Regions from separate parts of the Homo sapiens genome. Here region 1 is linked to region 2. The links come from fine-mapping of genetic effects on gene expression. A gene starts in region 2. The other region holds a variant in brackets. All regions are shown on one strand. Distances are from middle to middle.

The links. PIP is the estimated chance that this variant, and not a neighbour inherited with it, causes the effect.
Region 1: its variant is fine-mapped to the expression of SAP30L-AS1 in fibroblasts (GTEx, PIP above 0.99).

What each region holds. Positions count from the first base shown.
Region 1 is chr5:154,387,671-154,393,042 of GRCh38, reverse strand. All of the region lies in intron 7 of GALNT10 (polypeptide N-acetylgalactosaminyltransferase 10), which reads right to left. It overlaps SAP30L-AS1 (SAP30L and GALNT10 antisense RNA 1), which reads left to right. Exons shown (of 3, transcript NR_037897.1): 3 at 29-3,274. Among named protein-coding and RNA genes, the nearest start is that of MIR1294, 43 kb to the right of the region's middle. The variant G/C (reference allele first, on the strand shown) is at 2,332.
Region 2 is chr5:154,442,969-154,448,340 of GRCh38, reverse strand. It overlaps SAP30L-AS1 (SAP30L and GALNT10 antisense RNA 1), which reads left to right and starts at 2,519. Exons shown (of 3, transcript NR_037897.1): 1 at 2,519-2,603; 2 at 4,861-4,979. It overlaps SAP30L (SAP30 like), which reads right to left and starts at 2,344. Exons shown (of 4, transcript NM_024632.6): 1 at 1,536-2,344. The coding sequence starts at 1,736. RefSeq lists silencers at 1,701-1,810, 1,941-2,470 and enhancers at 2,047-2,547, 2,601-2,720.

The DNA.
Region 1 (5,372 bases), 55 kb after region 2:
TTATTTTACGTAATATTTTCTTGTTTAGATATGCTCTAACTTATTTATCCCCAAAGGACGTGCATTTGGGTCATTTTCAATCTTCTGCTATGGTAAGTAACACTTCAGCAAATAAATCTTTGCTCATCACTGTCTCTCTTATATAAACTCCTGGGCATGGAATTTCAGGTCAAAGAATGTGCTTGCTCTGAAATGTAATGGATTTTGCCAAATTGCTATTCACAGAAGATATACCCACTTACACTGCCCCAAAGCCTACATTTTTCTCACTTTAGTTTGGTCACATTGTCCTGGTTGGATACTTTCTGTCTCCCGTATCTCATAGTTGGAGATATCCTAACCATGGCCTCCTGGGGACACTGTGCAGTTTCCTTTCTGCTCATCCTGCTGCCTCCCCCCCTAATCCAAACAACCCCTCATATCTGTGTATGTCAGAGGGCTGTCCACACAGCATCTCATTTGATCCTATCTTGTGGGGTAGGAAGGAAAACCGTATCAGCACAGTCTGGGGTATGAGGACCAGAGGTGAAACAACTGGCCCAGGGTCCTAGGATGGAAGGAGAGCCTCCTTGCTGAGCACTTTCCCACCATACACCATTGTCCAAAGATGGCCTCCTAAGTCTGGGAAGGGTAGTACCAAGGAGGTATATCAGTTGGAAGTGATGCCACTAACACACTAACACTTACTGAAAACACTGATGTGGGCCAGAGACTGGGGATATAGAGGTGGACAAAACCTCCTCCCTGCCTCCAGGGAGCATGCAGAGATGGGAGTGCAATGTGGGGTAGTTCCTAGGCAGCATGGGGAGCCATCTATATAAGCTGAGATTGGAAGGGTGAATGAGGGTTGGCCAGACTAAGGAATGGCATTTCAGGAGTGTACAGTGTGGGCCTGCAGAGAGGGGCTGGCCCGTAAGCCTGGTTCTTACATGCAGTCTTGTCTGGCTGGGTAAGGTAGACATCTACGGTTTGCTCTGCCCCACATCCATTCTCCCTTCTGGGCACAGCACCTGGACTTTCCTTTGGGTAACTAGCCCATCCCCACCTTCCTGCAGTCACAGGGCATGTGACTGCAGGTGACCAATTGCAGTATTGTTCAGGGATGGGCATGGGGCCAGCAGGCCAATGAGACTCAACCTGGGGACTTGTACAAGATGATGGGAAAAACACTCTCCTTCCATGGGCTGCTGAGGATCTCCATGAGAAAAAGCCCACCTGAGAGGGAAGCCAACTCAGATGAAATAGGGACTAGGCATTGAGAGAGACCTAGCCCGAGTGAGATGACTGAGTCCCTGCATCCAGCCCGGCCTTAGGGTCTACCCTGGAATTTCAGTTATGTGAGCCTATCAATTCTGGTTTTTGCTTAAATCAGATTGACTAAGGTTTTGGTTATCTGTAAGCAAGAATCCAGACTAATGCAATGGGATAAGAGGAAAAGGGGAAAGGAGAGAGCAGTAGGGCCAGCTCATGAACCTAGCTGGAGCTAGGCTATGGAGTTAAAGACTTGTCCAACCACTAGAACTAGGAAGATTCTGACTTCCACGTGAGAACTTTGCTCTGCTGAGAGAGACAGACAGAGAAGGAGGGAGGGAAAGGGAAAGTCAATGACTTTTCTAGAAATTTCAGAGCTGTTGGGACACTTTTTGGGGATTTTCTCATCAGGATAGAGAATCCGGTCTGGAATCAGCCCTCAGCCCTGAAGGTACGTGTTGATTGATCTTAATTTCTGAAAATACACTCATGCCTTTCAGACCAGGCTTCTCTCTGTCACCAAGAAAAGGGATCTTAGCAGAGATGAATCAGAGGGAATTCGGTCCTTCGTAAATGCCAGCTCTGGCTGAAAGAGAACACCTGCATTCCAGCAGGGCGCTGCCAGGGATGAATGGGCTCACCTGTTCCCCTCAGCCCTGCAGGCAGTCTTTCCACAGGGTCCTGGGAGACAGTGCACTGGCAGATGGGCTGTTGCTGGCTCCAGAAACTCTCCTTTTCCAAGCCAGGAGAGAGAAAGCCCAGGGAGAAAAGTCTCCCTTCCGGACCTCAGGAGCCTCCTCATTACACTGTCTCATTTCCTCTGGAGAGTGACGGACATAATTGGATCAAATGGAAATGTAAGCCAGCCTCCTTCCCCCTCCCGGATGAGATACTTCCAATATGGCTTCATTACCAAGTCTATTGTAAATAACTGTGGAGAAAAATGCCATTTGTTCTGCCATAATTGCCTGATGAGCATCAGTAGATGGGTCTTTGAAACACATAGAATGAAATCATTTTGGGCTGGTTTAGAAATTCCTTTGTGCAAATCTTTCTCCATTCACTGTTCTCCATGGTGGG[G/C]GTTCTGAAGAGGGTCTTCTAGAGCAAGGAGCCAGTTAGGAGCTTGGAGGCTGATTCTGGCCAGGGACACACTTACTTGGAGTATTCAGCCAATATTTGTTAACTGCTGTCAACTAAAGAAAAAAAACGAAGCTTTTAAAGAATTAAAGTTAGTTTTATTTAGAAGTCTTCTTGAGGATTATAGACCAAGGCCTGTAGCCTGGGAGGAGGCTTTTAGAAAGGTTCTCTCAGACTCCTCCAACGTAGTATTTTAGTTTATACATAGGTGGTGAAGATTTAGTATGTGAAAAATTACATCAAGGTTTGGGTGTTAGAGTACATCTGGTTATAGATTACAGAAACATAGTCACTATTCTTGTCGGGTGTTATTTTATGAGTAGAGAAAGGCGAGGACTAGGGTCATTTATCTTTGATGGAATTAGTGACTCAGGCGAGAGACATGGGGGGCCATGCGTTCTATCCTGTTTTGCCTTTAAAACATTTTTCCAGAGAGCTGCACAGTGTCCCGGAGTCAGGGGCTTTGTGAAATTCTCCCAGCAAAGGGAAATGGGCAAACACGGCCTCTTACATTTGCCACTTTGTTTCACGAAGTTTTTGGTCATAAATTGTTTGGTTGTGTTGGTAAGAATTAATGTTGATTGCCATCTGTAGTTAGAAGGGCTCTTGTTTAGGAAGGTTGGTAATTTTTAGTTGTAGTTGTATCAGACCTAGTGTGTTTTTTAGCCTTTTCTTGGAAAATATGTTTTGGACTGAGTTTAGTTCTCATTAGTAGGATGCAGGGGGTTTTTGATGGTGTCTTTTTTTTGTATTTAATACAATATTTTAATAGGATTATTATGAGGATATTATAGATTCTATACAGTAATACAGACTTCATAGTAATAAAGTCTGTTGTAGACTGGAAAAAATATGATATTTAATAAAATTGGAATATATATTTGTATACTTTTAATTGTATTATTTTTTATACTTATATTTATTGGAGTCTTTTTTATGAAAAGCAATGTTGGACTAGAATTTATTGTAAATGCCTTTATAGAAGAATTTAGAATAATAATTCTAAATAAGTGAGAAAAATAGAATAATCCCAGTTAAAATTTGATAAAGGTTTTTGATTTTTTTTTTTTTTTGACATGGAGTCTCGCTTTGTCGCCCAGATTAGAGTGCAGTGGCACGATCTCGGCTCACTGCAACCTCTGCCTCCCAGCTTCAAGCAATTCTCCTGTCTCCACCTCCTGAGTAGCTGGAATTACAGGCATGTACCACCACGCCTGGCTAATTTTTGTATTTTTAGTAAAGATGGGGTTTCACAATGTTGGCCAGGCTGGTCTTGAATTTAGTTATTTTATTATATGTAGTATTTTAACATGATAACCAGAATTATGGCTGACAGTGTTATATCAGAACTACTAGACTTTTATACATTTTACATATTTTTAGAATATTTATAAGATATTTATATAAATATAATTTTAGAAAAGATTTAATACAATAATAAAAATTATGACTCATAAAAATTGGTCTCATAGTGTCTTTTCTGTGTTGGACCAGGCTTTAGGTACTTGGGATATGGCGGTGAGTGAAACACAAAAAGATCCCTCCCCCACTGACTACTCTTTGCTGATAAGCTTGGAAGCAGCCTCAGAATGCATATCAACACCCACCTGGGGCAGCCCCTACCAATGGATCAGAGTTGGCCTGGCAGGGAGTAGAAACCTATTTGCTGTGTCTCTCTCTCTGTCTCTCTCTCTCCCTTTCCCCCTCCCTCTCTCCCTCCCCACTCCTTCTCTCTCTCTCTTTCTTTCCTTCTTTTTTTTTTTTTTTTTAATGAGATGGGGTCGTGTTGTGTTGTCCAGGCTGGTCTCAAACTCCTAGGCTCAAGAGATCCTCCCATCTCGGCCACCATTCCTGGCCCTATTTGCCACTTCCGACTTAGATTGTTATTAATTCCATTAACTAAGAAATTGCAGAATATCCAAGTAAACTAGGAATAATACCAGAAGAGGCAAAAAAAAAAAAAAAATCCCAGAAAGGGTGAGGCAGAGGTCCATAAAACATGGCAGGTTTTCAGAACAGTCTGGGTATGATTTAAACAACAACAAAAATAGCAGGTCAGAGCGTGGGCTTTGGAGTCAAGCAGACCTGCGTTTGGGCCCCAGTTCTGCTTCTTCCGGCTGTGCGAGGCCTTGGTCTGAGCTTTGCTTGCCTTCCTGGTGAAACGGGTATAATAATGATACAACTCTCCTAAGGTTGTTGTGAGGATTAAACAAGTCAGCATGTATGAAGGGCTTGGCACACTGTCCTGTTAGCTATGATCAGGACCGAACTTCACTTGTTACACGCTGGAGTGGATGCACCATTGTTTATAGCTGGTATCTGTTCTGACTGGATGTGCTTGTGTTATCACAGTTGTTACATATTTTGAACATTACCCTTATGTGAATATTAATTTTATTTAGGGGGCTGGTCTCCTTATGGGAGACAACTTCAGAACTCTGGTGGTTAAAATAGATATAAACTGGCCAGGCACAGTGGCTCACACCTGTAATCCCAGCACTTTGAAAGGCCGAGGTGGGTGGATCACCTGAGGTCAGGGGGTCAAGACCAGCCTGGTCAACATGTCGAAACCCTATCTCTACATTAGCTGGGCGTGGTGGTGGGCGCCTGTAGTCCCAGCTACTCAGGAGGCTGAGGCAGGAGAATCACTTGAACCCAGGAGGTGGAGGCTGCAGTGAGCCAAGATCGCACTACTGCACTCCAGCCTGGGCAGCAGAGTGAAACTCCATCTCAAAAAAAAAAAAACAAAAGAAAAGAAAAGAAAAAAAAAGGATATAAACTGCTTTTCAAACCTAAATAACATCAAAAGAATTGTAGGTTTTTTTTTTTTTTGGGCTAATCAAGAATTTATGTTCTCCAGTTCTGAACTACTCAACCACTGTTGCAGATAATAATATTAATGTATTGATAATAATCTTTAGGATAATTTATTAAGAAGCACCTAATAAGCATGGTCTCACTTAATCCTCTCAACAACTCTGTGA
Region 2 (5,372 bases):
CAACTGTATTATAATGATTAACTTAAAAATGGGGGTAGGAGGGAAGAGTCTGAAGAAAGGACAGGGGCTGGGCGCAGTGGCTCACGCCTGTAATCCCAGAACTTTGGGAGGCCTAGGCGGGTGGATCATTTGAGGTCAGGAGTTCAAGACCAGCCTGTCCAACATGGCGAAACCCTATCTCCATTAAAAATACAAAAATCAGCCAGGCATGGCGGCAAACGCCTGTAATCCCAGCTATTCAGGAGGCTGAGGCAGGAGAATCGCTTCAACCCGGGAGGCGGAGGTTGCAGTGAGTCGAGATCTTGCCACTGCACTCCAGCCTGGGTGACAGAGTGAGACTCCGTCTCAAAAAAAAAAAAAAAAAAAAAAAAGAAAAAGAAAAAAAAAAGAAAAGAAAAAGGACAGGGGAGATTTTTTATTTATTAGAGACTTAATGAAGACTTATGTATAGGGCTTGGAAGTAAATTAGATAATATCTTTAAGAAATTAACCAGCCTCTTAGGTGCTGTGTGTACCTGACACCCTCACTTCCTATCTCTGGGCCTGTTTCAACCCTAAAATCAGAGGGGAAACGTGCACTCCCTTTCAGTTTAACAAGCAGTCTCTGATTTCCTCCAACTGTGGAGAAATTCTGATTCTAGAAGAGAATGGATGTTAACCACCTAAGCTCTTAGCTAGTCTACCTGAATATTAAATATCCCCTTAACTCATTTCCAATTCCTAATCATGAAGCAATCACTTAAGGCTTGTAGCAACAGATGTCAAACTAAAAAGTTCTTAATTGGTTGACAATAGGCACAGCTTCAGAATTGTTAACTAGAAGTGGTGAAGTCACACGGGAGGAGTTTCCTATAATAAGCCACAAAGAGCAGGGCAATCCGATTTAAATTTAAATATCCACCCCCTTATTTCAAAAGAAACTACCACTAAGAAAATTGATTTCTTTTCTTCCCCCCTCCAGTCACATCGACTGCAAGAGCCATTTCTCAAGACCTGGCCTTGGCCTTATTTCTGCCACATCCTAGAAAAACCCATTCCCACAGCTGCCTGCGAAGCAGCTAGCTCGGTGACCCTCTGCTGATACCGAGGATGCGGGAGCCAGGGAAGTAACTGCCACCTTTCTCTGTCTGAAGGAATAACAGGGTTCCTAGAAGGAGAGAGAAGTTGGAAAAGAGCCGGGTATCTTCATCACTCCCCGCTCCGATTCTTGCTCCTTCAAGGGCCAACAAAACTAACCCACCTCTCCCTGCTCTAAAGTCTAAACCAATAAAACAAGTTGGAAACTGCTGTCCAATCTTTCCAGGCAGCAGGAGTCCTGAAGCCCCCGCCCCCATCCTCCCGGATCTGGGTAGAATCACAGTCAGAGCATGTCAGCGCTGGAGCGGCCTTTGAAATGCGGAGTCCAACTCAGTTCTGCAGAGCCGGGGCGGCGAGGCCCACGGCGGGGAGTGCCCGGGGAGTCCCGACTGGAGCCCAGGGCAGCGGACGGAGAGCTGGGGGCGCCGGGGCCCAGACGCGAGCGGGGGCGGACTCACGCTCTTGTCGATGTCCAGCTTGAGTTTCTTCTGCGAGATGCTCTTCTGGACCCTCTTGCTGAAGGAGGCGTTGCCCGCGGGCCGGACGCAGCGCTCGCCGTCCTCGATGAGGCAGCAGCTCTGGCCGTAGCCCGGGGCGGCGGCAGCTGGGGCGGCGGGGGGCCCTTCGCGGCTGTCCTCCTCCGTGCTGAAGCCGTTCATCTCCCCGCCCCGGGCCGGTCCCTCTGGGGGAGGGTCCCCGGTAGGCCACTCCGCGGCCGCGCTTGCCGCGGGGCAGGTCGCTGAGACCCCCGCAGCCGAGGGTCCCAGAGTCCGTCTCCAGCCCGGGCGCTGCCCTGCCCCGCGTCCGAGAGGCCCGGCTCCCTCGGCCCCCGGCCCTCCGCCTCCGGAAGCCCCCTTCCTCCCGGCTCGAGGCCCCGGGGTCGGCTCCCGCGGCTCGCAGGGCCCCGCCGGGGGTCACCCGGAGGAGCCTTCTGCCGGGGGCCCAGAACCGTAACCCTGCAGCGGGGGTGTCCGGGAGGGCGTCCCAGGAAACAGCCGCTCCCCAAGGACTCCGGGCCTGGGTTGCCAGGGGGTTTCGAAGGCCCCTGCCGGCTCCCGCCTTCTTTCGGCAGCGGGGCAAACTCGCTGCCGGGCAGCTCCCCCGGGGTGGCGCGGCCTCCTCGCGCGGGGCCCGGCCTCGAACCCGCGGCACCCGGGCCCCGCGGCTCGTCCGGCCCACTCCACCCCTGCAGCCACTCGGCTGCGCCCCGAGTCCCGCGGCAGCCCCTGGGCCGCCCGGCCGCCGCCCGCCGAACGCTCCGCACCACAACAGTTCGCTCCCCCCGCCCTTCGCGGGACAGCGGAAGTCCCGCCTTCACGCGACCATTGGTCTCATTTGCTCTCTGGGCGGGGCTGCCGCCGCCGCTGGCGCGTCCCATTGGGCGTCGCCGCCGCCAGTCTCCGGCGCCAGGCTACTTCCTGGACTCTGCTGGGATGGGTTCAAAGTAGAGAAAGTGGAAGAGGAAAGAGTTACCCCAGCGAGAACCGGGAACCGGGCTGCAGACTCTCCGGCCCGGGGGAGGGATGGTGAGCAGGGGCCTGGCTGGACCGAGGGCCAGACTCCAGGAACAGAGGAACACATTCGGGGACAGACAGTAGAGACGCGGACGGGGACGCTGAGGGACAGACTTGGAGGAGGGGCATATGAGGGGACCTAAAGAGGATAGAGGTGCTATCAGGAGAGGGGCGGACTAATAAAATGAAAGGGCCAGGGCCAGAGGACTCGCGGATCCGTGGGAGGAAGGGTGGGTGAAATAGGACGGAAAGCCAGTCATGGCGGGAAAGACAGAGGGACAACCCCATACAGATACGTGGAAAGACATGCGGAGGAGGTGATGGGGGGATCTTGCAAGGCAGTCGCAATATTGGGGGTAGCCGATACCTTCCAGAGTGTGGAGAGTGGGACTGGCTTGGACGGCGCGGAAAGAAAAGGAGAGGGGGAAAGGAGACCCCGAGGGGTTTGGGCGACCCCTCCACTGGGAAGAATGGGAAGTCCGAATGAGGTCTGGAGGGTGGACTAGGTGAGCCGCGGGCAAGAGAAAGGGCTTCAGGGGAGATGAAGTGAAGGCTGGGAGTGGGGCCCAGGGGCCAATCTCGGAATCTAGATGGGGAAGGGCTGCGGTGTCTTGGGCTCTCCCTGGAGCTCCAAGCTGTAGTTCTATTGCTTTGAGTCCCCGGGTCTACCGGCGAAGCGACTGCGCCCTGCCAAGACCCTGCGCTTGGTTTCGGCGCCCAGGGCACCACCTCCCCTCCAGGAGGGGCCGTAGGATATGCTCTGGTCCAGCACTTCAGTCATGCCACTCTCCAACTGCGCAGCATGGGGACTGATGAGGTCCGAAAGGCGATGGGACCAGCCCAGGGTCGTGTAATTATGTAGGGCTGGGCAGCGTTTTATGGGCAGGGAAGAGGGGAGGCTGTGTTAGGTGATAGGTAAGCAAGTGTTAGTACTAGAGGGCATAGAAGGAGCTTCGGGTTTGTGTCCTGTTGTAAAAGGGAAAGCTACCAGTTTCCATGTTTAGAAGCAGGTGGCTGGTGATCTTAAGTTTTGCTCAGTGGCCATAAATGCATTTGTAGCATCTGAACTGGTAATTTCACACGTGGGACAGCCATCGTCGGAAATAGGCCTATCAGAGATAATATGAAGTACAGTGATGTTCATTATGGAATTATTTATAATAGGAAAAATAAAATAGAACCTCAGAGTTCCAAAAGGGAAGTGGTTAAGTAAACTACCTAAAATCTTCAGAAAGAGATTGTGCAGTTAGCATTTGAGGTAGTTTCAACATCAATGTAAACATTTTCTATAGAGAATAATTCACCATTAATTCTTAAATAAAGAGCTGATGAGGAGTTGGAGAAATGCTTTTTTTATGATAAGTAAAAAAATTCAGGATATGAAATTGCATGGAGGATACGATGTCTGTACATCTATGTTTAAAGAAAAAAGAAAACTATTGGTATAAAAAATGCACCAAAGTACTAACAGTGATTATTTCTGGGTAGCAGGAATATGGCTGATATTTTTCTCCTTTTGTTTAACCTTTGCATTTTCTTTAATAAGCATTATTTTTGTTTTTACAGTAGAAAAAATAGAATAAAAATTAATGGAAAAAAGGCACAGATTAATAGGAGTCTTCCCTCAGAGTTCATATATTCTGTTCAAAAGTAAATTGTTGTTGAACTCATTATGTATACCAAGTATAGGGTTGGCTATAGGAGGAGGATGAAACATAACCCTTGCCCTAAAAGAATATCTCCTATCTGGGGTGTTCAGACATATATGTAGAAAACACTTGGGTATCTGTACCAGGCACTGTGTGATGTTGGGTCCAAAGTCAGTTGGTATGGATGAAACCTCCATGTTCCCCATATTTTTCTAAACAGCATTTGTATTCAATGCTAGGCTATTGCGGTACACAACTTCTTCTGCACCAACTTGCCCTGGTCTAAGGGGATCTAGGACCTTTTCTTAGGTGCTCTGTCTCAGTCCTTGAGGTAGTGGCTACTTATATCTGCTATTCTTGTATTATTTAGCATTCTTTTTTCTTTTTACTAGGCAGTTCCTTATAACTGTAGGGGACTACAGTCCCCTATTATAATTAATACATGTTTATATTATTATTTTCCTGTTCAAATTACTGTAAGGTTACTCTTTCCTGATTACACCCAGCCTGATACGCCCAGCCAGCCTCTGTGTGTGTGTGTGTGTGTGGTGGTGGTGGTGGGGGAGTTCATGCTTGTAACTGTTCTTTTTTTTTCTTTTTTCTTTTTTCTTTTGAGACAGAGTTTCACTCTGGTTGCCCAGGCTGGAGTGCAATGGCGCGATCTCGGCTCACCGCAACCTCTGCCTCCCGGATTCAAGCGATTCTCCTGCTTCAGCCTCCCGAGTAGCTGGGATTACAGGCATGTACCACTGCTCCCGGCTAATCTTGTATTTTTAGTAGAGATGGGGTTTCTCCATGTTGGTCCGGCTGGTCTCGGACTCCCAACCTCAGGTGATCTGCCCGCCTCGGCCTCCCAAAGTGCTGGGATTACGGGTGTGAGCCACCGCTCCCAGCCATTCTTTATGTATAATTTTGTAGTCTTTATTCAAGGCATACTTTATCATAATCTTTCCCCATATTGCTATGTAGTTTTCACAGTTGCCATTTTTTATGTAGTACAGTGCAGTTTCTGTAGTACAGTACACTGTGGTGCTAAAGACAGTTGGCTTTGCTGTCAGAACTGGGTTCAGATCTGGACTCCACCCATGACTTGTTATAACATGTTAGCAATTATTTCACTTCTTGAGTCTGA